Linked DNA regions of Homo sapiens. The protein of the gene in region 3 purifies or fractionates together with the protein of the main gene of each other region. This does not show direct contact. Each region holds a gene or a part of one and is shown on either strand. Other genes may lie near its edges.

Region 1 (4,147 bases), on a different chromosome or scaffold from region 3:
AAACAGAAATAAATACAAAGGGCTGCATTTAGTTTAGGGGAAAAAAACACAGAAAGAGAGGCTGGAGAGGCAAAACGTGGTTTGAAACAGCTCAACAGCCCAAGATGACTGCCAAAAACCACAGAAGTCAGCCATATCAGAGTGCATGATTTTATTCAAACAGGCCAGGTGACATGTAGAGCATTAGGTACAGCGCTGGCGGCCATACTCTAAGGAGCCATAACAAACAATGGAACTATTTCTGAAGGACCTAGAGAGCACCTCCTTCAGAGAACAGCTCAGTTAACCAAAGGTGTTTGGCCTGGAGAAAAAGTCAACAGAACAAGAGCCTTAAAACAGCTGCTAGACTGTTTTGGAGAAAAAGGGAATAGATTTATTTGTCTACTACAGACTTTTTTTTTTTTTTTTTTTTTGAGACGGAGTCTTGCTCCTTCGCCCATGCTGGAGTGCAGTGGCGCGATCTGCGCTCACTGCAAGCTCAGCCTCCTGGGTTCAGGCCATTCTCCTGCCTCAGCCTCCCGAGTAGCTGGGACTACAGGCGCCCGCCACCACGCCCGGCTAATTTTTTCTATTTTTAGTAGAGACGGGGTTTCATCATGTTAGCCAGGATGGTCTCGATCTCCTGACCTCGTGATCCACCCACCTCGGCCCCCCAAAGTGCTGGGATTACAGGCGTGAGCCACCGCGCCCAGCCTTAGACTTCTTGTCTTGCTATTAGATTAGTAAAAGTCAGTACAAGCTACAGGGAAACAGATTCCAGATCAATACAAAGGAAAAGCTCTATGGTCCCACTAAGGACTGGGCTACCTTTTAAACAAAGAAATTTTCCAACACCAGGAATATTCAAAGAGAAGATGACTGAATATTTTCTCTTGGACTCCTGAAACAGCTCCCTAACTGGTCTCCTGACTTCTACACTTACCTCCAAAGAGCCCATTCTGTTTACAATCATCAAAGCAATCTCTTTAAAAAAAACTCTCATCAAATTGAATTACTTACTCTCTTCCTTAAAACTTTCCAAGGGTTTCTAAATACACTTAGAATAAAATTCAAACTTGAGGCCAGGAGTGGGGGCTCGTGCCTGTAATCCCAGCACTTTGGGAGGCCGAGGCGGGTGGATCTCCTGAAGTCAGGAGTTCAAGACCAGCCTGGCCAACATGGTGAAACCCCGTCTGCACTAACTAAAAATACAAAAATTAGCCGGGTGTGGTGGCAGGCGCCTATAACCCCAGCTACTCCGGAGGCTGAGGCAGGAGAATGGCTTGAACCCAGGAGGCAGAGGTTGCAGTGAGCCGAGATCGTGCCACTGCACTCCAGCCTGGGAGACAAGAGCGAAACTCCATCTCAAATAAATAAATAAATAAATAAATAAATAAATACTTGAGATTTTGCCCTTCAAGGCCCTAAATAATCTGACCCTGCCTTCCTCCACTCTTCATCTCAAACCAATCTCCTCTTCACCATCTCAAGAGCTTTGTACTTCCTGATGCTCTTATTCCCACCTAAGAGGCTTTACACTTCTCAGTATCTCTGCCCCTTAATGTTCATTCCACATCTTTGCAAGACTGACTCCTTCTCACCATTCATGTTTCTGCTGCAACATTACCTTCTAAAAGCCTTCCATGACCACTCTATCTAAAATCTCACCAATACAACACACGTAGACACCATTTCCGTTAATTTTCTTCATAGCACTTACTAGTACCAGAAATTACCCTAACTTGTAAATTTGTATATTGTCTGTCTCACCTAGTAGCAAACTGAATGAAGGCAGCAACTTTAATCTATTTTGTTCATGTTTCAAGTCTCAATTTCCAAACCAGTGCCTGGCACATAGTAGGTGTTTAACAAACACTTCACGAATAAACAAATTAATTAACAAACATTTGTCAGAGATGTTCTAGAAGGGATATATGTCTTTAAGGGCAGGAAGGTGGACTATCTGGTACCTAAAATGCATTCTACATCTAAGTGACATTCTACATCTTAAGAACCTATGGTCTGTTTGGGAAGTAAGAAATCCATACAGTAATGGCAGGTGAGCAACCACTTAACCAAAAATGGACGCAGCTAGGAAAGTGTCGACAACAGAATAATTTGTAAAGGGATAGTCAGATCTAGAGGAATAGAGGCACGCTTCCTAAGAAAGTGACCATCGTACAAAGCCAGAAGAGACTGGGAAACCTAACTAGGGAGACTATTCTCTGGTGAAAGGTAAGCAAGTTTGCAGGAGGATTTGCTCTTGCAATTCTGAGGGCTACACAAAAGCAGACTCGGTAATTATGCCTGCTCAAATGATGCCTAAACGTGTGTCCTGAAGAACCAGGGTCCCCAAGGGGGTAAATCCCGTGTCTACCGCAAGGCCAGAAGGTGCCCAGTAAATTACACTCCTCCTAGGTCCCACTTACTGCTTCCCTTTAGAACGCTGCTTCACTCTACACCTTCCTGGCTGACTCCCACAAACATTCTCTGGGCGATTTCTGAACCACGTGGAGTCGAGGAATGACAGTGGGAGAAAGTGGTTAAAGTGCTGTCTCCATGGAGACCTTAGCGACCGGAAATCAGTTTCACAGCCGCCGAATCCTGGCGATACCAAAGGATGGGAATTGGTGTGGCTCGCCAGGCAGCCCTAGCAAAACTGGCCGAGCCGAGCTACCGCGGGTCTGGCAGGCAGGACACCTGGGAGCCAAACCTCGTGCACGTCGGCGTCTGAGAAGAGTCGCAGGCGCCTGGTCCAGTCCCGGAAGCAGGTCTCCTTCTACGGCGTCTCCGAGGCTCGCAGCGCGGTCCACGGTCGACTACCGGGTCAGGGCAAAGGGAGGGAGAGAGGGGTAACCTGGAGGAGTCATCGCGAGAATTGACCAAACGCAGCTCCTCCAATCAGGAGTTCGAGGAGGTCGTGACGTCACCGGGGTGGCCGGTAGCAATCCGGTTTAGTTAACCAGCCACTGTACCGTCAGCGCCGCGCGTTCCTCATGGCGTTAGGGCTGACGGGCCTTGTTGCTGAGGGGCCTTCATTCAACGGTCTCTTGTTGAATGAAAAGACCTCATTCTCTTCACATGCTTGGACGCCTGGGAAGCGCTTTTCTCCCAATCCAGACCTTCCACCTTTCTCCCACTCTGTTGGCCCAGTGCAGAGTCTAGGAGAAAACTACGTCTGGGACTCGGGAACGAGTCCAGGGAGTTTAGAGCCTGCGAGATGGGGCAGGGGTTTGGGCGGCGACTGAACGGAAGCCACGAGAAGGATTCGGACTAAAATGAGTAGTGCTGAACCAACGTGTGCCAAAGCGCATATATTCATTCAATAGATAATGAACTCTACTGTCAGAGCGTCGCCAAGCGCTAGCCTTGAAAGCTATCCCCTACTGAGGATACATGTATTACGCAGCACATACAAATTGTCAGATGGTTCAGTCCTTGAAAAATAAATACAATAACGGGGTGTCACTGGGAGCTGCGACAGTGGGCAAGATCAGGAAAGACCTGATGCTATTATCAGGAGTATTAATTTGGAAAATAGAGACATTTCAGTTCTCTAAACGTTAATGACTTAAGTTTTTAATAATTATTTTCTGAATTTTTTATATCAGCTTGCCTTGGTTTTCTTTATAGCTTTACCACATAATGTATGTATCACTATCTTGTTTCGTTCAATTTTGAAGCTTTTGGAATTGCGTATGTATTCTCCAGCAATTTGCTTCTTTCAGCATTGCTTTTCATATTCACCTACAGGTGGCTGTAGTGCTCTTCGCCCAGGCTGGAGTGCAGTGGCGCGATCTCGGCTCACTGCAAACTCTGCCTCCCGGGTTCAAGTGATTCTCCTGCCTCAGCCTCCTAAGTAACCGGGATTACAGGCGCGCGCCACCACGCTCAGCTAATTTTTGTATTTTTTAGTGGAGACGGGGTTTCACCATGTTGCTCATGCTGGTCTTGAACTCCTGACCTCGTGATTCGCCCGCCTCGGTCTCCAAAAGTGCTGGGATTACAGGCGTGAGCCATGGCGCCCGGACCGTAATTTTCCATTGTTTAATATACTTCATTATGTATCCATCCTGCTGCCTCTTAACATGTGCATTATTTCCAGTTTTTGTTCTAAACATTGCTGCTGTGAACTATGTTGTGCATGTCAGCTGGTGAGTGTGTGCAG
Region 2 (3,500 bases), on a different chromosome or scaffold from region 3:
CCCACATTTTCTTCTGTATATGAATCACAATTTCAATGAAGAGAAAGCAAAAGTGTAACCTTAGCTTAGCACAGTAAGTAATATGCTTACCAGTTCAGCAAACAGTGAGGGATGAAAGGAAGTAATAAATGTACACAGATGAACACAAACATGCTGATACAAGGTGACAGCCACCTCAGCTTTCCCCTTACTCTTTAATCCCTGTAAATGAACAGGTAGAGAGAGTTCACCAGAACACTGCTCAAAACTGTAGAAAACGGCTTTGAGTAGAGATATCCTGCAGGGAAATTGAGAACATTGAACCCAACATTAATAACATTTACTAATTAGCAATTATAATAATAATATGTAACATGGAAGGTTGTTTAAGCAGAAAATGTTTCAAGAGGTATAATCAGCAATAGTTTCCAACACGTGTGAATATGTACACATAAAAGGAAAATATATTCACTGTCAAAGAAATTCCTTAAAGGAGAATTTTCCTGGACATTTTTTGCATCATTTACCAACTGTTTATCTTGGTACTGAGTTACACAAAGTCAAAGTTCCTCAAGGAACTTGAAACTTAAATAGCTAAATTAGATATTATATGGAAAAACAGAAAATAAGTAGCAGACGAGGAGTCATTTTAAGATTAAAATGGTTGAAGAAACTTAGAGGATTTAAACAACAAATTAAAAATAGTCAAGTTATGGGCAGGGTGTAGTGGCTCACGCCTGTAATCCCAGCATTTTGGGAGGCCGAGGCGGGAAGATCACTTGAGCCCAGGAGTTGGAAGACCTGGGCAACATAGTGAGACCTTATCCCTAGAAAAAATTTAAAAATTAGCCAGGACAGCTGGCACACACCATTAGTCCCAGTTATTTAGGAGGCTAAGGTAGGAGAATCACTTGAGCCCAGGAAGTTGAGGCTGCAGTGACCCATGGTCATGCCACTGCACTCCAGCCTGGGTGACAGAGCAAGACCCTGCTCCAAACAAAAAAAAAACAAAACAAAACTGTTCAAATTGTAAGTACGTAAAGAAGACAAAAGCACGAGTAAAAGCACACAAATAAGGGGGTGACAGAAGCAAGGAATATGTGTTGAAAATGAATACAAGAATGAGGAGAAAAAGCAGAAGATGACAATAGTATGGGACAGGCTTTAAATCCAAAGCTGAGAAGTTCTAACATTATGTTTCAGTTTTTGAGCAGAATAGGAAGCTCAGAGCCAGGTTTAGGGAGACTAACCTCATCGTGGTACGCAGAATGGGATAAAGGAAGAGGTGAAAAATTAGAGCACAGAGTAATCCAGGAAGAAAGAAACTAGAGCCTGGACTACGGTGTTGGCAAGGAAGATGATTAAAGGTTAAATTTGCCAGGATATACCTTACAGTGTCTAGTGTTCTATTTATCAGAGCTCGTTTTTAAATGTTTCTACTTATAGCTACTCTATTACAATCAATGTTTATAATGCTGACCATTAAGCAATACTGAACAAAATTAAATATTAAAATATTTTTAGCATCTAATATAGGTTTATATATTTTATATTTATCTGCTTTTATAAAGTAGCAATATATATGTGTGTCTACACAATAACTATTAACATAAATATCTGATTTAAAAAAAAAACACACAAACTTAATTTCAAGACCATTCCAAACAACAGGGCCTTCTTAACCATTGGTAATATGACTGGATAAAAACATGTTTGCTACCTGGTTGTCGTTTCTGAGACCTGGCTGTCTGTGCACCACAGGGTTTGCACTTCCTTAGGCTGAGATGGCAGCTTATCCATGACAACAACCAGAAGAAGACATTGTGGAAACTGCAGTTCACATGGCAGGTCTTACATGTAATAAAAACACATTAATTCAGCAGAAATCTGATTAATACGTAAAGGAATAATTTTTTTTTGTTTGAGTCAGAGTCTCACTCTGTCACCCAGCCTGGAGTGCAGTGGTGTAATCTCAGCTCACTGCAACCTCCACCGTCTGGGTTCAAGCGATTCTCCTGTCTCAGCCTCCCGAGTAGCTGGGACTATAGGTACATGCCACCACACCCAGCTAATTTTTGTATTTTTAGTAGAGATGGCGTTTCACCATATTGGTCAGGCTGGTCTTGAACTCCTGACCTCAGGTGATCTGCCCACCTCGGCCTCCCAAAGTGCTGGGATTACAGGTGTGATTCACTGTGCCCAGCCAGGTATAATTTTTAAATAAGAAATATGTTTCAAGAAAAGAAAGTAAAAGAAACTTAATAAAAATTTCTTAATTGTAAAAAAGAATGGCTAGGGGAAATCAGTGTCTCTAACATGTCATAATAGATGATTTATCATTAAATCTATTTTGAAGCTTACCTAATTTACTGTCCAAAACCACCTGCATGAAAGGCTGAAATGTGAGCAGCTGACTGATAAGTGGATCCAGTGTCACTAGGAAAGCACCTGCTATTTCCTCTTGGTGTGCTTTAGAAATCCTGGTAGCATAAAGGCTTGGAGGAAACTTGCTGGGAAGGGAGAGAAAAAAAACTCATTCATTAATAGCTATCTTCTAATTTTAGGTAGAGTAAGTACTATAAACTGATGTTCTGGTAGTAAAAATATATTAAAAACTAAGTTTTTAAAAATAAGTGTGCATTTTATAAAACAAAATTCAAAGTACTGAATTGATACCAGAATTGGATCAAGATCTCTAAACTAAACATAGCCATAATTCTATAAAATGAGAAGTTGATAATCTTAGAGAAATCTTTGTTGCTTTGAGGCACTGATATCATTTTCACAATATCCTTAAAAATACTATAAAAATCTAAATCTTAAATCAAAAGTAAAAATATATATTGAAAAGACTATGTCTGATAAATTCTAGCTTATTTCTATTAAAAGTTGTTTTTGGGCGGAGCGTGGTGGCTCATGCCTGTAATCCCAGCACTTTGGGAGGTTGAGGCGGGTGGATCACCTGAGGTCAGGAGTTCAAGACCAGCCTTGCCAACATGGTGAAACCCCGTCTCTACTAAAAATACAAAAATTAGCTGGTTGTGGTGGTGCATGCCTGTAATCCCAGCTACTCGGGAGGCTGAGGCAGGAGAATCACTTGAAACCAGAAGGCAGAGGTTGCTGTGAGCCAAGACTGCGCCACTGCACTCCAGCCTGGGCGGCAGAGTGAAACTCTATCTCAGAAAAAAAAAAAAAAAATGCCGGGTGTGGTGGCTCACGCCTGTAATCCCAGCACTTTGGGAGGCCGAGGCAAGCGAGGTTGGGAGTTCAAGACCAGCCTGACAAACATGGAGAAACCTCGTCTCTACTAAAAATACAAAATTAGCCAAGCATGGTGGCACATGCCTGTAATCCCAGCTACTTGGGAGGCGGAGTCAGGAGAATTGCTTGAACCTGGGAGGTGGAGGTTGCAGTGAGCCGAGATTTCGCCATTGCACTCCAGCCTAGACAGCAAGAGCGAAACTCCATCTCAAAAAAGAAAAAAAAAGTTGTTTTAAAATAGGCAGAATGCTGAATTTACT
Region 3 (3,500 bases):
TACGCAAATAACCCTAACATCCTAACTGTAAGCTCCTTGAGGGCAGGAACAATGTCTTACACCTTTTTATGCCCTGTACAGTGCCTAGCATAATGCCTTGAACATAGTAGGTGCTCACTGGAGTCTCTGATTGACTGGTATCTAAAATAGAAACCAGAGAGATGAGTGCACAGCCAGAGAGGCAAGTAAGTGAATAGAGGGACACAGTGAGTGGCAAGAACCAGTCCTGGGGTAGCTCCTGGGTGAAGTCTGTCCTGGCCCCTAGGTAGCCAGCCCTGCCTGGTGGATGGAGACAAAGGGGGCAGATCACTTCCTAGAGGGGTCAGACACACATGTGGCCCTACTCTCCCACAACCATCATCAACACAGGTGAGCAGCCATGCAGAAAGAATCTCTGAGGGCTTTGAGCCAGAACCTGCAACCAACAGCTCATGGGCATGTCTAGGGTGCCTGAGCACCGGCCAGCCATCCTGCACCCCGGAAGCCTCCCACTGTGCCTCACTGCTCTGGCTTCTTGGGATTAATTCTTAAGGCATGGGCAGAAATACCAAAAATAGAAGGGGAGAACCCCCACGAGAAATAGTTTGAAGGCAGCCAAAGGAGGCTGATCTATCCCCTGGCATCCCTGGGGCAGTGGGGCCCACTCCCTCACCCACAGGAAGAGCGGGGCCTCTGCTCTGGGATGGGGGACCCTCAGCGCTGCAACTTCTAGCACTGCGCCTACAGGGCCTCTGCTCTTGCATAGAACCCCTTGTCATTTCCCAAACGTCCTTCCTATATCTTACTTTGTTTTTTTTTTCCACAATGCTCTAAACGTAGCCACTAGACAAAAGCTGGAAATATTTCAGGGAGCTTCCTGTAATGATTCTCCCAGTCTAGGGGCCTCAAAAAGTCCAGGGTTCAAAGAATAATCTCTCTCACCATTATTAAATGATTCGCACTATCTGCAAGAGATACTTGGATTGGTGCCCTGGGTAATCTTTTAATAAGAGAAGATGTTTTAAGAAGATACTTACACAAGTGAAAATGATGAGTGTTAAGTAGAAAATAACCAGAGCCAGCAGCAGGACAATCTCCGCTCTGTATTTCTTAAAAGTCTCTTCTTTACGCTGTGCAGGGCATCCTTTAAAAAAGTAAGCGACATGTGAAGCCATTTTAACAGGATTTTTCTACCATGAAAAAAAGCTAAGAATGCTTTGTTCCTTGGTCCTGGAGTCCTGCTTGTCTCCTCTTCCCACCATCAGGATGAACGACAGTAACAGTGACAGTGAAGGTGACAGCAGCAGCCGGCGCGCACTGTCGCTCTGTGTCTGGCTGCATGCGACTCTCACATGGCATCTTTCCGAATCTTCAGAACAGGCCTGAGTAGTCCCATTTTACAGATGAAAGAGCCGAGGCTCAGAGAGGGTCAAGGACCAAGGACCAAGGCGGCTGAGCCAGACAGCTGGTCCAGGCTTATCCTGCGGCCTGTCTGCCTGCACTTCGGATGTCAAGCCTTTCCTGGCTTATTTTGTCCTCCTACCAGATGAACCACCACTTGTTAATCCAGAAATTATCTTAACTTCATCACTGTTGGGTAGACTGTGGTGTGTCCTCACCTCAGGAGGTTTCAGGGACTATGAAAGGAAGCAGGGGAGCTGCCCTGATATTGCCAAATACGTCAACAGATTTTTCTAGAATCATTCAAGCTCTTTCGGCAAGGGTGCCAGCATGGTTGGGTGGAAGAACAACTCCCTCAGGGCTGTTAAAGGGTTTGGTGCAGCACGAAGGGAGGGTAAGAGCAGCGAGGCCTTTAGCCCAGGGACAGACATGAAGGGAGGTGCCTCTCCCCACTCAGGTGCAACACCCAATGTGCTGTTTGGGGAAGCAAGTTGAGCTTTGGCTATAGTGTGCTTGCAAACAGAATCTGCTTGATGCCCCAGGCAGGAGCAGGTGGAGTGCAAGTGAGCGGAGGGGGTTCTGCCATTGGAGCCAATGGCTAGATCTCCAGAGATGTCAACCCCTGAAAATGGATTCGACATTTTGTGCAGCAGTCGAGGGATGGATTCTCACAGCCGTGGGTAATGAGAGCCATTGTCCTCATGGTCCCTAATATGTATTGGTCATTCAGTCTATCCCGGGCACTACACTCAGCATTTTAACGCAACTTCTCATTTAACCTTCACAACAAGCCTATGTTGTAGACGTTACTTCCATTTTAGAGATTAGAGAACTGAGGCTTAGTGTCAATCCGTGATTTGCTCAAGGTCACACACTAACAAAAGGCAGAGTTAATATTTGAGCCAGATCTAAGTGACTGTAGACTCTGACCCCTTAAGTTGTAGGCAATATCGCCATGGAAGAGGAAAAGGAGAGAAAATCAGCTATTCTCTTCATTTTCTCTCCACTCCCTGCAGGACATGCCTGCCCTCTCCACTCTCCTCTGCAAGGTTCCTCTCATTCAGGTGAATATTCATTGAGGGCCTACTATGTGCCCAGATACATCAGAGAAGAAAACGCAGAGGTTCTTGTTCTCTTGGGGAGACAGACAGTAAATCAATCCATACATAACATGCCAGTTGTACTAAGTACCAGGAAACAAAGAAACCAGGATGAAGGGCTGGAGATCCAGGAGGGCCTAAGGGAGGTGTGTGCATACAACACTAAGCAAAAAGCACACACTGCCCCCTTAAACAGGGACTGTACTCTTGCAGGTGTAATAATATTACCCGAAGTCCAATTCCTTTCAGATCCCTGACAGAAGGAGAAATCAACGGTTGTACGGAATCAGGGGCTCTGTGACCACATTTTTATCATTTCCACCCTCAGCCCCTAACAAGTGTTGGGCAAAAGTCAAACAAAAGGCATCATTTAAGCCACAGAAAGAGAAAATGGTGACATGCTTGCAGCGGATTTCCACTTTCAGCCACAGATGTGATCCAAAGCTCTAGAGCTACACTCCAAAAGAGAGGAACGATTTTAGGACCTAAAGGAAGTACACATGCATTGTTCAAGAAGAAAACAAGTGCAGCAGGTCACCTCACCTGTCACTCTCAAGATCACCTTGCCACTTAGGTTTCTCTGCCCATCCGGGTCCTGCAGAGTGCACCTGTATGTCCCCGAGTTGCAGCTGGTAGTGTTTCGGATCTTCAGGGAATAGGGCCTTTCATTGGGGGCGTCGAAAGAACCATTTTGCCCCTTCTGATGATAGTGCTGTCCCCTGAGGTGGTCTTCCTGGGGTGTCTCCATCCTCTCTTCACCACCCTCCAATAACTGTGAAGAAGGAATCAGAGCGCATCACGGTCCACTGCAAGCACTCCAACTCGACACCAATGTTTCCATTTTGTTTTCAGAAGATCCAGCCTCAACTTATGTTTGTAAAACAAGACGTGATGCTTTTGTGTGTGTGTGACCTCTGGGGGAGGAAAGATCTATGAAAATTCCCAAGGCTACATCTTCGGAATATATCAGGACTACATCTCATGATTCTATCATAAGTATCCCAATTTCCACCCTATATT
Region 4 (3,500 bases), on a different chromosome or scaffold from region 3:
TAATTCTTATTCAGCAGTAATTACGGTCCATAAATCTGTCCCCCCAAAAAGATATTTATATTTTTAAAATTATGTTTAATTGGAGGAATAACTATGCAAACTAGAGATATAAATATCAAAATCACAGTAAAATTTTTATTACAATTATTATAGGGAAATATTGTCAATGAAAAAGACTTTACAGAATGTTTTAAGGGAAATATAGATAAGCTGTTGATTTTAAAAAGAAACTTAAAAGGGGTTTATATTTTACAGAAACATGTCTTTTAGTATTGATGGTTTACTGCTGAACTGAGGTACATTCCTATGCCTTGCATTCCAAAGAACTAACTAGAGCATTCATTCTATTGCTAATAATGTGACTGTCAGATTTTCAAAACAAAACACTTTTTAAAAACCACTGCTTGTTAAGACTGTACGGTGTAACAGGTGGACCAATGGGAGATAATGGAAAGCCTGAATAGACCCTCACACATATGAAGCCATTAACAGAGGTGCCATTATAAATCAGAGAGGAAAGGATTCAATAGTGGGATAACTGGCTGTTCATATGAAAAATAAATTTAGAACCCTACCTCACACTAAGCATTTAATAAATATCAAATTGACTAAAAAAGTCAGGTGGGTTGCAATTATATGACATTTGTGCATTGAAAGGACAGAGAAAAGTTAGCTTTCACTATTATTGAGCACCTTCTCTACAGTCACTGCTATAGGACTGAATTAGTTTACAAGGCTGTCTTGCCTAGGAAGATAAAGTTAAGCTGGTAAAAATTACAAGAGACATGAGATATTTGAAGTTTGCCGTTTTTCTGGATCATATTGTTGGAGTACTCCAAAAATTAATCCCATTTCTTTACTTAAAAACAACTCTGGAAGCTAATACAACTTAGTTCTCAATTTGTAAGTCAGATATTTGTTTAAAAATCAAAGCATTAAAAAAAAAAAAAAACTACTTACCTCATCAAGTTCAACAAGAATATTTCCACTACTTCCTGCAGGAAGATCTGCTATTTGAGCTTTTACTGCTTTGGGGGTAGGACCTCGCCTACTTGTGATAGCAAAGGCAGCTTTCTGGTGCCTGTAGAGTGTAATTATACCTCTGTGCTTGGTGACAGTATGGTGCATTCCATCTTTTTCTGAGGTGGATCCTAATAAGAAAAAAGTTAAACAACCTTTTAATCATAATATTGGTGATACCAAATGTTTTCAGCTCCATAAGAGATAAAACATTTTTAAACTATGTCTTTTAGGCCTCAACTTTTATAGGCCAATGACATTTTCCTTAGACAATGAAATGGCAATAAAATAGTCTATTTGCATAGGATTTATACCTAATACAATCCAGGTTGCAGAGCCATCTGAACAATGAGAAACAGCACATGAAAAAATTATTGTGACTTCAGTTAATGTGTTTGTGTGTGTATATATGTGTGTATATATATATATATATATATATATATATATATATACACACACACACACACACACACATATATATAATTTTTTTTTTCTGAGACAGGGTCTTTCTCTGTTGCCCAGGCTGGAGTGCAGTACCACCGTCTCAGCTCACTGCAACCTCCACCTCCTGGGCTCAAGAGATCCAATCCTCCCACCTCAGCCTCCTGAGGAGTTAGGACTACAGGCACACACCACCACACCCAGCTAATTTTATATTTTTTGAAGAGATAGGGTTTCACCATGTTGCCCAGGCTGGTCTCAAACTCCTGAGCTCATTCCATCTGCCCGCCTCGGCCTCCCAAAATGCTGGGATTATAGGCATGAGCCACCATGCCCAGCCTATTAATTTTTTGTTGTTATTTTTGAGATGGAGTCTCACTCTGCCACCTAGGCTGGGGTGCAGTGGTGCAATCTTGGCTTACTGCAACCTCCACTTCCCAGGTTCAAGGGGACTCTCATGCCTCAGCCTCCTGAGTAGCTAGGATTACAGACGCACGCCACCACGTCCGGATAATTTATATATATATATATATATATTTATATTTATATTTATATATTTTTTTGAGACGGAGTCTCGCCCTGTCGCCCAGGCTGGAGTGCAGCAGTGCGATCTCGGCTCACTGCAAGCTCAGCCTCCCAGGTTCACGCCAGTCTCCTGCCTCAGCCTCCTGAGTAGCTGGGACTACAGGTGCCTGCCACCATGCCCGGCTGATTTTTTGTATTTTTAGTACAGACGGGGTTTCACCATGCTAGTCAGGATGGTCTCGAACTTCTGACCTCGTGATCCACCCGCCTCGGCCTCCCAAAGTGCTGGGATTACAGGCGTGAGCCACTGCACCCAGCCTAATTTTTATATATTTTTTTAGTAGAGATGGGGTTTCACCATGTTGACCAGCCTGGTCTTGAACTCCTGGCCTCAAGTTATCTGCTCACCTCGACCTCCTAAAGTGCTGGGATTACAGGCATGAGCCACTGCCTGGTCCCTGGCCTATTAATTAATTAATTATTATTTTTTGAGACGGAGTTTCACTCTTGTTGCCCAGGCTGGAATACAATGGCGCGATCTCAGCTCACCGCAACCTCCGCCTCCCAGGTTGAGGCCATTCTCTTGCCTCAGCCTCCCGAGTAGCTGGGATACAGGCATGCACCACCATGCCCAGCTAATTATATATTTTTAGTTGAGATGGGATTTCTCCATTTTGGTCAGGCTGGTCTTGAACTCCCGACCTCAGGTGATCCGCCTGCCTCGGCCTCCCAAAGTGCTGGGATTACAGGCGTGAGCCGCCGTGCCTGGCCTGGCCTATTACTTTTTAAAAAATTATTGTGCCTAAGCATAACGAGAAATATTAAAAAATATCTCAAGCAAGTTCTCTTTAAAAGCAGAGTCACCATGAATTAAAAAAAAAAAATTGGTCACTGCAAAATGATGCTGCCTTATATAGCAATGGACCAGGGGGGTAAGAGGGGGGAGAATGACCCCAATGTATTTTTAAGATGTTAATATTCAAAATGTCCACCTTTCTTCTTCTAGTTCATAAACATATTTTTCAAGATCTATGCTGCACCAAAGCTGTAAGTCTACTACATTTCAAATAATTTGTTTTCCCAAAATCTTGTTAACAATCACACATACAAAAAGCACATAGGACTGAGTCATATGAATAAAACACTGGTCTTTAAGACCTGCCTACAGAGGGCAGTTCTCATTTTCCATACAAATTCTCCAAGTGAAAACAAAAAAGTTGGTTAAGTATTATTTACTAAAAGTACTAAAAGTTCACTAATCTCATAAAACATGCACTAAATTAGGGAAACGAGAGATTTTATAATGACTTTTTCAGTCAATAGGGTTGCTCCTTTGGTTAAGGAAAAAAAATTCATTAAATAACATTTGATACAATTACCTTTTCTAGCTTGATACAGTAAACCATATAATGATGGTTTTGAAGGCAAAGGTAAGGGTGAACACCTGTCTTACAGATTTCAGTCACCTTATATCAGCTATCAGATCTTCCATGAATGGCTTTTTTGAACTTACA
Region 5 (3,500 bases), on a different chromosome or scaffold from region 3:
GAAGTAGGGCAGGACGAAAACAGGAACTTGAAGTGGGTCATGCTCGTTGAACTGGAAACACTGAGTTGATATCTGGGTTATTTCCCCTGACTGTCGCAAAACACACTTAGACAAACCCTGCATTTATTCCTTTAGAGTTGGGAATGGGAAGAGTGTGTGTGTGTGTGTGTGTGTGTTGGGGGGTGAGGGGACTACTGCCCAGGCTCTACCTTTGTGGGAGGATCCTCCCCTTCCTTCCACCAACCCCACTTGGGATGTCCCAGGCTGGTGGTGAACTCGTTGGGCAGGTCAGTACTGTGTTTATAAAGCGTGTCCTCAGCACACCCTGCAAAGTGCCTGGCAAAACATAGGCATGCCACAGATACTTTAAAAAAATGTTTTTCCTGCTTACAAAAGTAAGTCATGTTGATTTAATAATATCGAGAAAACACAGAAAAGCATACACAAAAAGTCACTCTTCGACTTAGACGTGATTAATATTTGGTATTTGTGTATATGTAAATATGCATGAAAGAAAAGCTGAGAAAACATACTGCAGAGTGTTTTCCACGCTACTAATTCCTCTCCTAAGACATGATTTTTAAAAATCGATTTTATCAAGGTCTAAATTGCATGCAATAAAACTCAGACATTTTAAGGCACATAGTTGGTTAAATTTTGATAATTGTGTGCACCTGTGTAAACATCACCCGGATCGCAGCAGCCCAGCACCTTCTCCTGGGCCCTGGGCTGTTTTCTCACCAGGGACAGGCACGATGCTAATAGAGTTTCATGTAAATGGAATCATGCCATGTGCACGTCTTTGTGCCCGGCTGCTTTATCTCATGTAAATGGAATCATGCCATGTGCACGTCTTTGTGCCCGGCTGCTTTATCTCATGTAAATGGAATCATGCCATGTGCACGTCTTTGTGCCCGGCTGCTTTATCTCATTTTGTTTTTTTTAAGATTCATCATGTCAGCAGTTCCTTCTTTCTGGTTACTAAGTCATATTGCATTGTGTGGGTGCACTAGTGTATCCGTTCACCTGCTGATGGGCTTCTGGACAGTTTGCAGTCCATTCACCTTGACTATGTGGATAAAGACACCCTGACCCTTTAGGGGCTATGCTTTTGCTCCTCTTGGGTGCATATTTAAGAGTAGAAAGCTGGATTATAGGAAAATGTATATATATATATATATATATGTATGTATGTATATATAACATATTTTATTATATTTTTGGAGTCTTCCTCTGTTTCCCAGGCTGGAGTGAAGTGGCAAGGTCTCGGCTCACTGCAACCTCCACCTCCCGGGTTCAAGTGATTCTCCTGCCTTAGCCTCCTGAGTAGCTGGGATTATGGGCACCTGCCACCAGCTAATTTTTGTATTTTTAGTAGAGACAGGGTTTCACCATGTTGGCCAGGCTAGTCTCGAACTCCTGACCTCAGATGATCTGCCTGCCTCGGCCTCCCAAAGTGTTGGGATTACAGGCGTTAGCCACTGCACCTGGCTGTAAATTCTTACAAGAAAATAGAGGACAGTTTATAATATTGGAATGGGAAAAGGCTCTCCTAACCAAGATGGAATCCAGAAAGAATAAAGAAAAAGCTAGATTATTTGACGAAATAATTTTAAAATTTCTTTTGTAAGATATCATAAATTTAAAAAAAAAGATAAGGGCCGGGCGTGGTGGCTCACACCTGTAATCCCAGCACTTTGGGAGGCCGAGGCGGGTGGATCACTTGATGTCAGGAGGTCGTGACCAGCCTGCCCAACATGGTGAAACCCTGTCTCTACTAAAAATACAAAAATTAGCCAGGCATGTTGGCGTGCGCCTATAATCCCAGCCTCTCAGGAGGCTGAGGCACGAGAATCTCTTGAACCTGGGAGGCGGAGGTTGCAGTGAGCTGTGATTGCACCACTGCACTCCAGCCTGGGCAACACGGCGAGACTCCATCTCAAATAATAATAATAATAATAAAATAAAAATAAAAAATGATGGGGGTGATATTTGCAACAAATAGGATAGAGAAAGGGTTAATTTTTTTTTTTTTTTTTTTTTTGAGACAGAGTCCCACTCTGTCGCCCAGGGCTGGAGTGCAGTGGCGTGATCTCAGCTCACTGCAAGCTCCGCCTCCCGGGTTCACACCATTCACCTGCCTCAGCCTCCCGAGTAGCTGGGACTACAGGCACCCACCATTGCACCCGGCTAATTTTTTGTATTTTTAGAAGAGATGGGGTTTCACTGTGTTAGCCAGGATGGTCTCAATCTCCTGACCTCGTGATCCTCCCTCTTTGGCCTCCTTAAGTGCTGGGATTACAGGCGTGAGCCACCGCGCCTGGCCAGGTTAACATTTTTTGAACATTTTAAACTTACATAAAAATTGATAGGAAAAAAGGCAGACAATCCATTAGACAAATGGCAATGGATATAAGTAGGCGATTCACGGAAGAAAACATTCGGAAGTGGATGCTGAGCGTCTGAGTAGATACTGACCCAAGGCAATGATGAGATGCTGCTCTCAACCAGCAAGGGATGGGGAAGGGCGAAAGCACAGCTCTGTGCTGGGGAAGTTTCAGGACGCTTCTGGGCTGGCAGACCCGGTGAATGGGAAGTGGGAACTGCTAGGGTGTTTTTGGAAAGTAATCTGGCAGTGTTTTCAAACTGTAAAAAAAAAAAAAAAAAGTGATATCCTTTGACCCAACAATTCCATTTTTGATTATCTATCCCAGAGAAATTAAACCACCAGTATTTAAGAAACTTTCATACTCGAGAAGATACACTTTCTGTGTGTTTAAGAAACTCCTAATGTGTTTTACTTCCCGTCCCCCCCACCCAATTTATTTTTCTTCTCTAACAGTCTAGATTTTTGCATAACAGCGTTTTCTATGAGAAATGCAGCTGAGTCCTGCCTTTTGAGGGTTATCTCAGGAACCTGTAGCTGGTCCAGGATGCATCTCAACTTAATGGCTTCAGCGATTAGCCCAGCGTGGACTTCCAGGCACGAGTTCTCCTCTGTCCTGGAGACAGCCAGCCTGTCACCCGCATACAAGCTCCAGCTACTCGGCCTCTCTCCTAGGCCAGTGGCCCACCCTCACCGCCTGCTGGGTTCTCGATTCGGCTGTCCGGATCCCACACGTCTGCTGGGTTCTCGATTCGGCTGTCCGGATCCCATACCTCTTCTCTCCTTTCTCGCTGACCTTGGTCCCCTTTTTGCCACAGACTGGGTCAGATGACTTCTGCCTCCAGCTGGCCCCGGTCTTCCCCTCCCGACCCCTCCTGCTGCCTTTTGAATTTCTTTAGGGAGCACCCCGGCGGCTGAACCCTGGATGATGGGGATTGGAAGTTTAGAGAGCACCCTGAGGGTCACTAATCCCTTCTCCAGTGCCGTTGGCCCGTCCTGACAGCCAGCCTGTGTGCCCCATTGATGTTTAGACACCCTGCCCTGCTACAAAGTTCTTCCAGGCACTGCTCGCCCATGCGTGCCTGTGGCCTGGCTTGCATTCCTGACCTCCCCC
Region 6 (3,500 bases), on a different chromosome or scaffold from region 3:
ATGTGAAGGGAAGCACCAATCAGAGTGAAGTTGGTCTAGAAATAGAAATTATCATTCTTAAATAAATGGTGGAAATTCATATAAATATGTGAAGGGAAAAGGGTCATTGAATCCCAAGTTTTCAGATTTTCAGTAGCTGCTTGTTTGAATACTTTAGAACTCATTTCCCAGGTTTCCTCAGCTACCCTTATTTCAATTAACATATGAGTCAGATATTTCGTTCTAGTTTTTTATCATGCCACATGGTAGAAGAGTCTTGCAAAGAGAAAATTAATCTTTTTGGCAGATTAGTAATTTTTTAACTGAAAATAAGGTTCTGAAAGTCTGAAACTAGAAAAAGAAGTCTTTTAGTGTAATTCACCAGCCTAGCTTTATTTTTTCCCTTCAAACTCCCTTTTATTTTCTAGTTAAGACAATATTGAGTAGCAATTAGACACTCTTGGTTTCTCAGCCATCTGCTAGTGTTGAGGTTTATTTATTTATTTGAGACAGGGTCTTGCTCTGTCAAGCAGGCTGAAGTGCAGAGCATAATCATAGTTCACTGAGGCTCGAACTCCTGGGTTCAAGTGATCTCCCCAGTTCAGCCTCCTGAGTAGCTAGGATACAGGCACGTAACACCATACCTGGTTAATTTTTTATTTTCTATAGAGAGGAGGTCTCGCTAAGTTCCCGAGGCTGGTCTTGAACTCCTGGGCTCAAGCTATCCTCTCACCTCAGCCTCCCAAAGTGTTGGGATTACAGGCATGAGCCACCACACCCGGCCTTGAGGTTTATTTTGAATAGCTTCAAGTAATTTCAAAAGTCTGAACTGTGAAGATACCGTGCTACCATGGCCTTAGAAGGGATGGACAAAGATTCATCTATGGCCAAGCTCAACAGAGCCTTATTAAAGATAAAGAAGGGCCAGGCACAGTGGTTCACTCTTGTAGTCCCAGCACTTTGGGACACCGAGGCGGGAGGATCACTTACGGCAAAGAGTTCAAGACCAGCCTGGGCAACGTAGCAAGGCTCGGTCTCCACAAAAAATTCAAGAAATTAGCTGAGCATGGTGGCATGCGCCTTTAGTCCCAGTCCCAGTTACTTGAAAGACTGAGGTGGGAGGATCGCTTGAGCCCAGGAGTTTGAGGGCACAGTGAGCTATGATCGTACTACTGCACTCCATCCTGGGTGACAGAGTGAGTCCCTGTCGCAAATAAAATAAATCAATAAGAAGGATTTTTAAATAAAATACTTTTTTTGTTTTCTCTTACATGGTTATTTTTCACAACTAAGTAATGTGTGAAATGGTGCAGCTAGTAAACAAAAGTACTTCCGAACATCTCAAGCAAAAACTGTCTTACTAAACTTCAGCTGCTAACTTTTCACTGTGGCCACATCTGTATACTACATTTACGTAAATTGATCTTCTTTCCCTTCTTCTACCTTGATTATCTTATGATGCTGGGGATTATTACTAACTTGATCCAAGATCAGGGTGTATGAGAAAAAATACTGGTACAATAAATGCAAAAAATATATCATTATTGAATAAAGGTTGCAACTATTGCTTATGAAATAAAATTACTTAGTCTTTTCTTTAATTACATATCAAATTAGTAATTTTATTTTCCAAGTTGTTGCTGCTAAAAATGTCTTAATAATATTGGTTTGGTTAAGTCTTAATTATTTAGTTTTAATTTGGTAATAATTGTGGGTACACACAAATTACTTGCAATATTGTTTTTAGTCTGATAATTTTGCTGCGTACTTATCTGTAACAGAATAATGAATAGCACAATGGTAAATATTAGCAAATTTTTTAAATGCCCTATCATAGTGCATTTAAAAAATAATGACATAATTATTAATATAAATAATATGACTTCATAATTACAACTGTCATGCTGAATATTATACAATTATTTTATTTCCGTTCGGGGATGTAATCTTGCATGAATGTTTGCCATACTGCATGTGTTTGCTTTTTATTCAGTCTTCTTGGATCCATTTTCCCAATGCCTCGTGTAATCTATGCTATGGCGGAGGATGGGTTGCTTTTCAAATGTCTAGCTCAAATCAATTCCAAAACGAAGACACCAATAATTGCTACTTTATCATCGGGTGCAGTGGCAGGTGAGAGAGAGTTGACTTTTCTTCAGAAACGGGGGATCTTTTTCATCAAGGACTCTGCATTAAAAATACAAAGCTAGGTGGTTTTCTTTTTTGATTTCCAAGAAGTTCAGTCACTTTTTTGTGAGTGTTTCCTATTTTGAATTTTTTGGTTCTGCATTTTCGTGTGTCCAGTCTTTACCTGTCTATACCTGTCTAGAATAATCCTTAAAATAACTCATGTGTGGATTTTGAATTTTTCTGTTCTAGTCTTCTGGGCTCTATGTTTCCTTTACCCCGAATTCTGTTTGCCATGGCCCGGGATGGCTTACTGTTTAGATTTCTTGCCAGAGTGAGTAAGAGGCAGTCACCAGTTGCTGCCACGTTGACTGCAGGGGTCATTTCTGGTAAGCTTTACAAACTTAGGTTTCTTGAGCATTAGACTGGAACATTTAATTCGCATGCATGGACTTATAAAGAGGGTCTGCATGCTGTGCATGTAAGTTAAAAAAAACAAAATCACTGATAAAAATTAGTATACAAGCATTGGGATTAACATGTGAAAATTGTGGTGGCGGTGGTATAATGAAGTTCATTCTTAATTGACCCTTTGGGATTTTTTTTTTACTGTTTTGTTATTTTAATCTTTTGGGCTCTAACAAATGTACAAAGGGTTATAATAGCTCTTCACTAAATATTATGAATTGCTTTTCTGATGAACTAGCACACAAAATTATATTATTGATACATAAACTTCTGATTAAGGAATTCTTGCTTAATTTTTGAAATATTAATTTTAAAATAATGATTCAATTTTTTGGTCTAGGATATACGTCGAATATTGCTAAGGGACCATAGGGTAAATTAAGCTTTACCCATTATTAATAAGAAATATTCAAGATGATTTATGCTTGGCCCTTGTGATCGCCATCCTCAGTATGGTGGGCATCCTTGCTTCCAGGGCCATCGCAGCCATCTAACAGTTAGGAACATACATATCCTCTCCAACTCCATCAGGAATCTATTTTTCCTTTCAACAGTTTTGGTACTTAAATTATGTTCAGAAAATCCAGATTGCTAGTCTTTTGGCACATCTTAATATCCATGTAAAATACCTTTGGCCAGATCCTTATCTCATGCAGAAAATTTCAGTGAGATTCTAGATCCAGACAATGGCCTTAAAGGTACTGTTACAGGAAGCAAAAGAAAGACTTTTGCAAGCTTTATACATAAAATAATGAACAATCTTGGCACTATAAATTCAAACCAAAATGACAATTTCGTTGAGGCTCTGAATTGTTAGGAAATTAGCTTAGAAAAAGCTAGTGCTTCATTCTGTGTAAAATGGAATTTTTTTCAGGGTCAGAATGTATTTGTTTAAACACTTTCACTTTGTAAACATTTTCTTATAA
Region 7 (3,500 bases), on a different chromosome or scaffold from region 3:
TTCTTTTTTGTTTGTTTGTTTTGAGATGGAGTGTCTTTCTTCTTGCTCAGGCTGGAAGGCAATGGCGCGATCTCGGCTCACTGCAACCTCCGCCTCCCAGGTTCAAGCGATTCTCCTGCCTCAGCCTCCTGAGTAGCTGGGATTACAGGTGCCCACCACCACGCCCAGCTAATTTTTTGTATTTTTCGTAGAGATGGGGTTTCACCATGTTGGCCAGGCTGGTCTTGAACTCCTGACCTCAAGTGATCTGCCCGCCTCGGTCTCCCAAAGTGCTGGGATTACAGGTGTGAGCCACTGCGCCCGGCCTATATTCTTATAATAATGGACAATTTAGATAAAGCAACTTTAATACTTCTGTTCCATTCATACTGAAAATTGGCATGATGGTTTATCTTTTTTTCAAGTCATTGTTGCCAATAAGCTAGGCAACTGGCAAACATCATGTATGAAATTTTTTGGGCTTGACATACTTTCCAGTGGTAATTGCTTCTAGTGGTTGGCTAGGTGGGGGTATGAGTTAGAGTAGGCTCTGGGTATCCACAGGTTCTACATTCGCAGATTCAACCAACTGCAGATTGAAAATAGGGGAAAATAACCATACAATAATAAATAATAGTGCAAGTAAAATATACACTATAACAGCTATTTTACATAGCATTTACATTGTATTAAGTGTTATAAGTAAAGATGATTTAAAGTACATGAGGTAGGTTATGTGTAAATACTATACCATTTTATGTCAGAGGCTTGTGCATCCTCCCATTTTGGTATCTGTGGGGAGTCCTGGAACCAATTCCCAGTGGATACTGAGGGATGACTGTATGATATGTCTTGTTAACTTGACCAAGAGTGGTAGTAAAGCAAGTGTAACTTGATATCACTTAGCACATCCTGCTGTTACAATAAGGCTTACTCATGATTTTTCTGAATAACATAATTTATATTAAATGTCCTAAATACTAGCACTGATCAAGTTTAAGAGCATTCCTAGTGAAATATTTTCTTATTAATGCAGTTCCCTTCATATGTATATTTATTTATTTATTTCCTTCCTTCCTTCCTTCCTTCCTTCTTTCTCTCTCTCTCTCTCTCTCTTTCTTTCTTTCTTTCAACAGAGTCTTGCTCTGTTCCCCAGGCTGGAGTGCAGTGGCGCAATCTTGGCACACTGCAACCCCTGCCTTCCAGTTTGAAGCCATTCTCCTGCCTCAGCCTCTGGAGTAGCTGGGACTACAGGTGCCCGCCAGCAGGCCCGGCTAATTTTTGTATTTTTAGTAGAGGTGGGGTTTCACCATGTTGGCCAGGCTAGTCTCGAACTCCTGACTTCAAATGATCTACCCACCTTGGCTTACAGAGATTACAGGTGTGAGCCACCATGCCCAGGCTACCTTCATATGTATTTTTCTTTTCTCTTCTCTCCTCTTCTTTTTTATTTATTTATTTATTTATTTTTGAGACAGGGTCTGGTTCTGTCACCTAGGCTGTAGTGCAGTGGTGAGAGCTCTGCTCACTGCAATCTCCGCCTCCTGGGTTCAAGAGATTCTCGTGCCTCAGCTTCCCAAGTAGCTGGTGTTACAGGTGCATGCCACCACGCCTGGCTAATTTTTGTATTTTTAGTAGAGATGGGGTTTCACCACGTTGCCCAGGCTGGTCTCGAACTCCTGGCCTTAAGTGATCTGCCCATCTCTGCCTCCCAAAGTGCTGGGATTACAGGCATGAGCCACCGTGCCCGGCCCATATGTATAATATATTTCTTATCCCCCTCCCCGAGCAATTTAGCATAATCTTTGACCATTTTTCTGTTTTTGTCTTTTAAATTAGTTTATCTCAGCAATATTAATTAGTACTTACCATAATCAAAGGCTTGAATACAATTTGGAGGTCTATCTGGAGACTGGACAATTTATGAATAGAGATATAAGGGTTTAGGGAGTGGTGCCTGTTTAATAATGATTTCATTTTCTTTTTTTGCTTTTTTTTTTTTTTTGAGACGGAGTCTCACTCTGTCGCCAGGCTGGAGTGCAGTGGCGAAATCTCAGCTCACTGCAACCTCCGCCTCCTGGGCTCAAGTGATTCTCCTGCCTCAGTCTCCTGAGTAGCTGGGACTACAGGCGCCCGCTATCACGCCCAGCTAATTTTTTCTATTTTTAGCAGAGGGGGTTTCACCATGTTGGCCAAGATGGTCTCGATCTCTTGACCTCGTGATCCACCCGCCTCCATCTCCCAAAGTGCTGGGATTACAGGTGTGAGCCACTGCGCCTGGCCGATTTCATTTTATCATTCGATGCTTAAATGTGATATTTAAAATTAAGCATTTTGTATTAAATAGTAATACATTCTTCATGTGCTAGATTCAAACAGTAACTTTCTAAAGAAAAACTTGATTTCCCTTTCCTCCCTATCTCTTTGCAGAGCTGTAACTGCTCCTCAAGTTTGGTGTGTGTTCTACAGGCTTTTTTTTTTTTTTTTTTGAGACAGGGCCTCACTCTGCACCCAGGCTGGAGTGCAGCCACATAGTCTCGGCTCACTGCAACCCTCCATCTTCAGGCTTTCTTCTTAACCTTTCCTTGGCTTTAAATGTTTTTTAAATAAATCTGTACTTTCAAATAGACTTTACTTTTTGGAACTTTTTTCCCCCTAAGATGGGTTCCTGCTATGTTGCTACCCAGGCTGGCGTCAAACTCCTTGGCTCAAGCGATCATTCCCCCACTGACCTCCCAAGTAGCTGGGACCACAGGCACACGCCAGCACACCCAGCTGAAACATTTTTAATTTTTCAGAAACACTGAGAAGACAGTAGAGAGTTTCCATATGCCCTATGCCCAGCTTTCCCTATTAGCATCTTATATCAGTATGGTACGGTTTTCACAATTATTGAACCAATATTAGTACATTGTTATCAATTAAAGTCTGTACTTTGTTCAGATTTTCTAAGTTTTTACCTAATGTCCTTTTTCTGTTCCAGGATCCCATCCAGGATCCAGGATGATATAATGTGGTAATGTTACATTTAGTCGTCCTGTCTCCTTAGGCTCTTCTTGGCTGTGAGTTTCTCAAACTTTCCTTGTTTTTGATGAGCTTGACAGTTTTGAGGAGTATTGGTCAGGTCTTTGTAGAATGTCCCTCAATTGGGGTTTGTTTGATGTTTTTCTCATGATTAGACTGGGGCTGTGGATTTGGGGGAAGACCACAGGTAAAGTGCTGTTCTCATCACATCATATCAAGAATGCACACTTTCAACATGACTTATCATTGTTGACATTGACCTTGATCACCTGGCTGAGGTAGTGTTTCTCAGGTTTCTCTTCTGTAAAGATACGTTTTACCCCACTTTCCATACTTACTCTTGGGAAGGAAGTCACTATGCATGGTCCACACATAAGGAGTGGGGAGTTATGTAACACCTCGCTGAGGGCCAAGTATTGACATGAATTATTTGGAATTTCCTGCATGGGGCATTTGTCTCTGCTCTGATAATTTGTTTAGTATTTATATCTGTATAG

Evidence for each region.
Region 1: the proteins of CD83 (region 3) and THADA purify together in Homo sapiens (affinity purification with mass spectrometry; 2 studies listed by BioGRID and IntAct, with this or other methods). This does not show direct contact.
Region 2: the proteins of CD83 (region 3) and FIRRM purify together in Homo sapiens (affinity purification with mass spectrometry; 2 studies listed by BioGRID and IntAct, with this or other methods). This does not show direct contact.
Region 4: the proteins of CD83 (region 3) and BTAF1 purify together in Homo sapiens (affinity purification with mass spectrometry; 2 studies listed by BioGRID and IntAct, with this or other methods). This does not show direct contact.
Region 5: the proteins of CD83 (region 3) and CERK purify together in Homo sapiens (affinity purification with mass spectrometry; 2 studies listed by BioGRID and IntAct, with this or other methods). This does not show direct contact.
Region 6: the proteins of CD83 (region 3) and SLC7A2 purify together in Homo sapiens (affinity purification with mass spectrometry; 2 studies listed by BioGRID and IntAct, with this or other methods). This does not show direct contact.
Region 7: the proteins of CD83 (region 3) and NDFIP1 purify together in Homo sapiens (affinity purification with mass spectrometry; 2 studies listed by BioGRID and IntAct, with this or other methods). This does not show direct contact.

Annotation. Positions count from the first base shown.
Region 1 is NC_000002.12:43,593,239-43,597,385, forward strand, and holds the start of THADA (tRNA (32-2'-O)-methyltransferase regulator THADA), read right to left. Parts: upstream 2,801-4,147; 5' UTR 2,693-2,800; exon of another isoform or gene 2,409-2,692; intron 1-2,408. UniProt on the Homo sapiens protein: Together with methyltransferase FTSJ1, methylates the 2'-O-ribose of nucleotides at position 32 of the anticodon loop of substrate tRNAs.
Region 2 is NC_000001.11:169,826,040-169,829,539, reverse strand, and holds part of FIRRM (FIGNL1-interacting regulator of recombination and mitosis), read right to left. Parts: intron 3,448-3,500; exon of another isoform or gene 3,325-3,447; intron 2,490-3,324; coding exon 2,341-2,489; intron 1,830-2,340; coding exon 1,700-1,829; intron 278-1,699; coding exon 91-277; intron 1-90. UniProt on the Homo sapiens protein: Regulates PLK1 kinase activity at kinetochores and promotes faithful chromosome segregation in prometaphase by bridging kinase and phosphatase activities.
Region 3 is NC_000006.12:14,131,272-14,134,771, reverse strand, and holds part of CD83 (CD83 antigen isoform a precursor), read right to left. Parts: intron 3,253-3,500; coding exon 3,024-3,252; intron 1,124-3,023; coding exon 1,017-1,123; intron 1-1,016. UniProt on the Homo sapiens protein: Transmembrane glycoprotein predominantly found on the surface of many immune cells including dendritic cells or lymphocytes that plays various roles in immune response regulation.
Region 4 is NC_000010.11:91,989,770-91,993,269, reverse strand, and holds part of BTAF1 (TATA-binding protein-associated factor 172), read right to left. Parts: intron 1,152-3,500; coding exon 961-1,151; intron 1-960. UniProt on the Homo sapiens protein: Regulates transcription in association with TATA binding protein (TBP). Removes TBP from the TATA box in an ATP-dependent manner.
Region 5 is NC_000022.11:46,731,753-46,735,252, reverse strand, and holds part of CERK (ceramide kinase), read left to right. Parts: exon of another isoform or gene 1-641; intron 642-3,500. UniProt on the Homo sapiens protein: Catalyzes specifically the phosphorylation of ceramide to form ceramide 1-phosphate.
Region 6 is NC_000008.11:17,552,588-17,556,087, forward strand, and holds part of SLC7A2 (cationic amino acid transporter 2), read left to right. Parts: intron 1-1,972; coding exon 1,973-2,112; intron 2,113-2,358; coding exon of another isoform or gene 2,359-2,495; intron 2,496-3,500. UniProt on the Homo sapiens protein: Functions as a permease involved in the transport of the cationic amino acids (L-arginine, L-lysine, L-ornithine and L-homoarginine); the affinity for its substrates differs between isoforms created by alternative splicing.
Region 7 is NC_000005.10:142,115,279-142,118,778, forward strand, and holds part of NDFIP1 (NEDD4 family-interacting protein 1), read left to right. Parts: intron 1-3,500. UniProt on the Homo sapiens protein: Activates HECT domain-containing E3 ubiquitin-protein ligases, including NEDD4 and ITCH, and consequently modulates the stability of their targets. As a result, controls many cellular processes.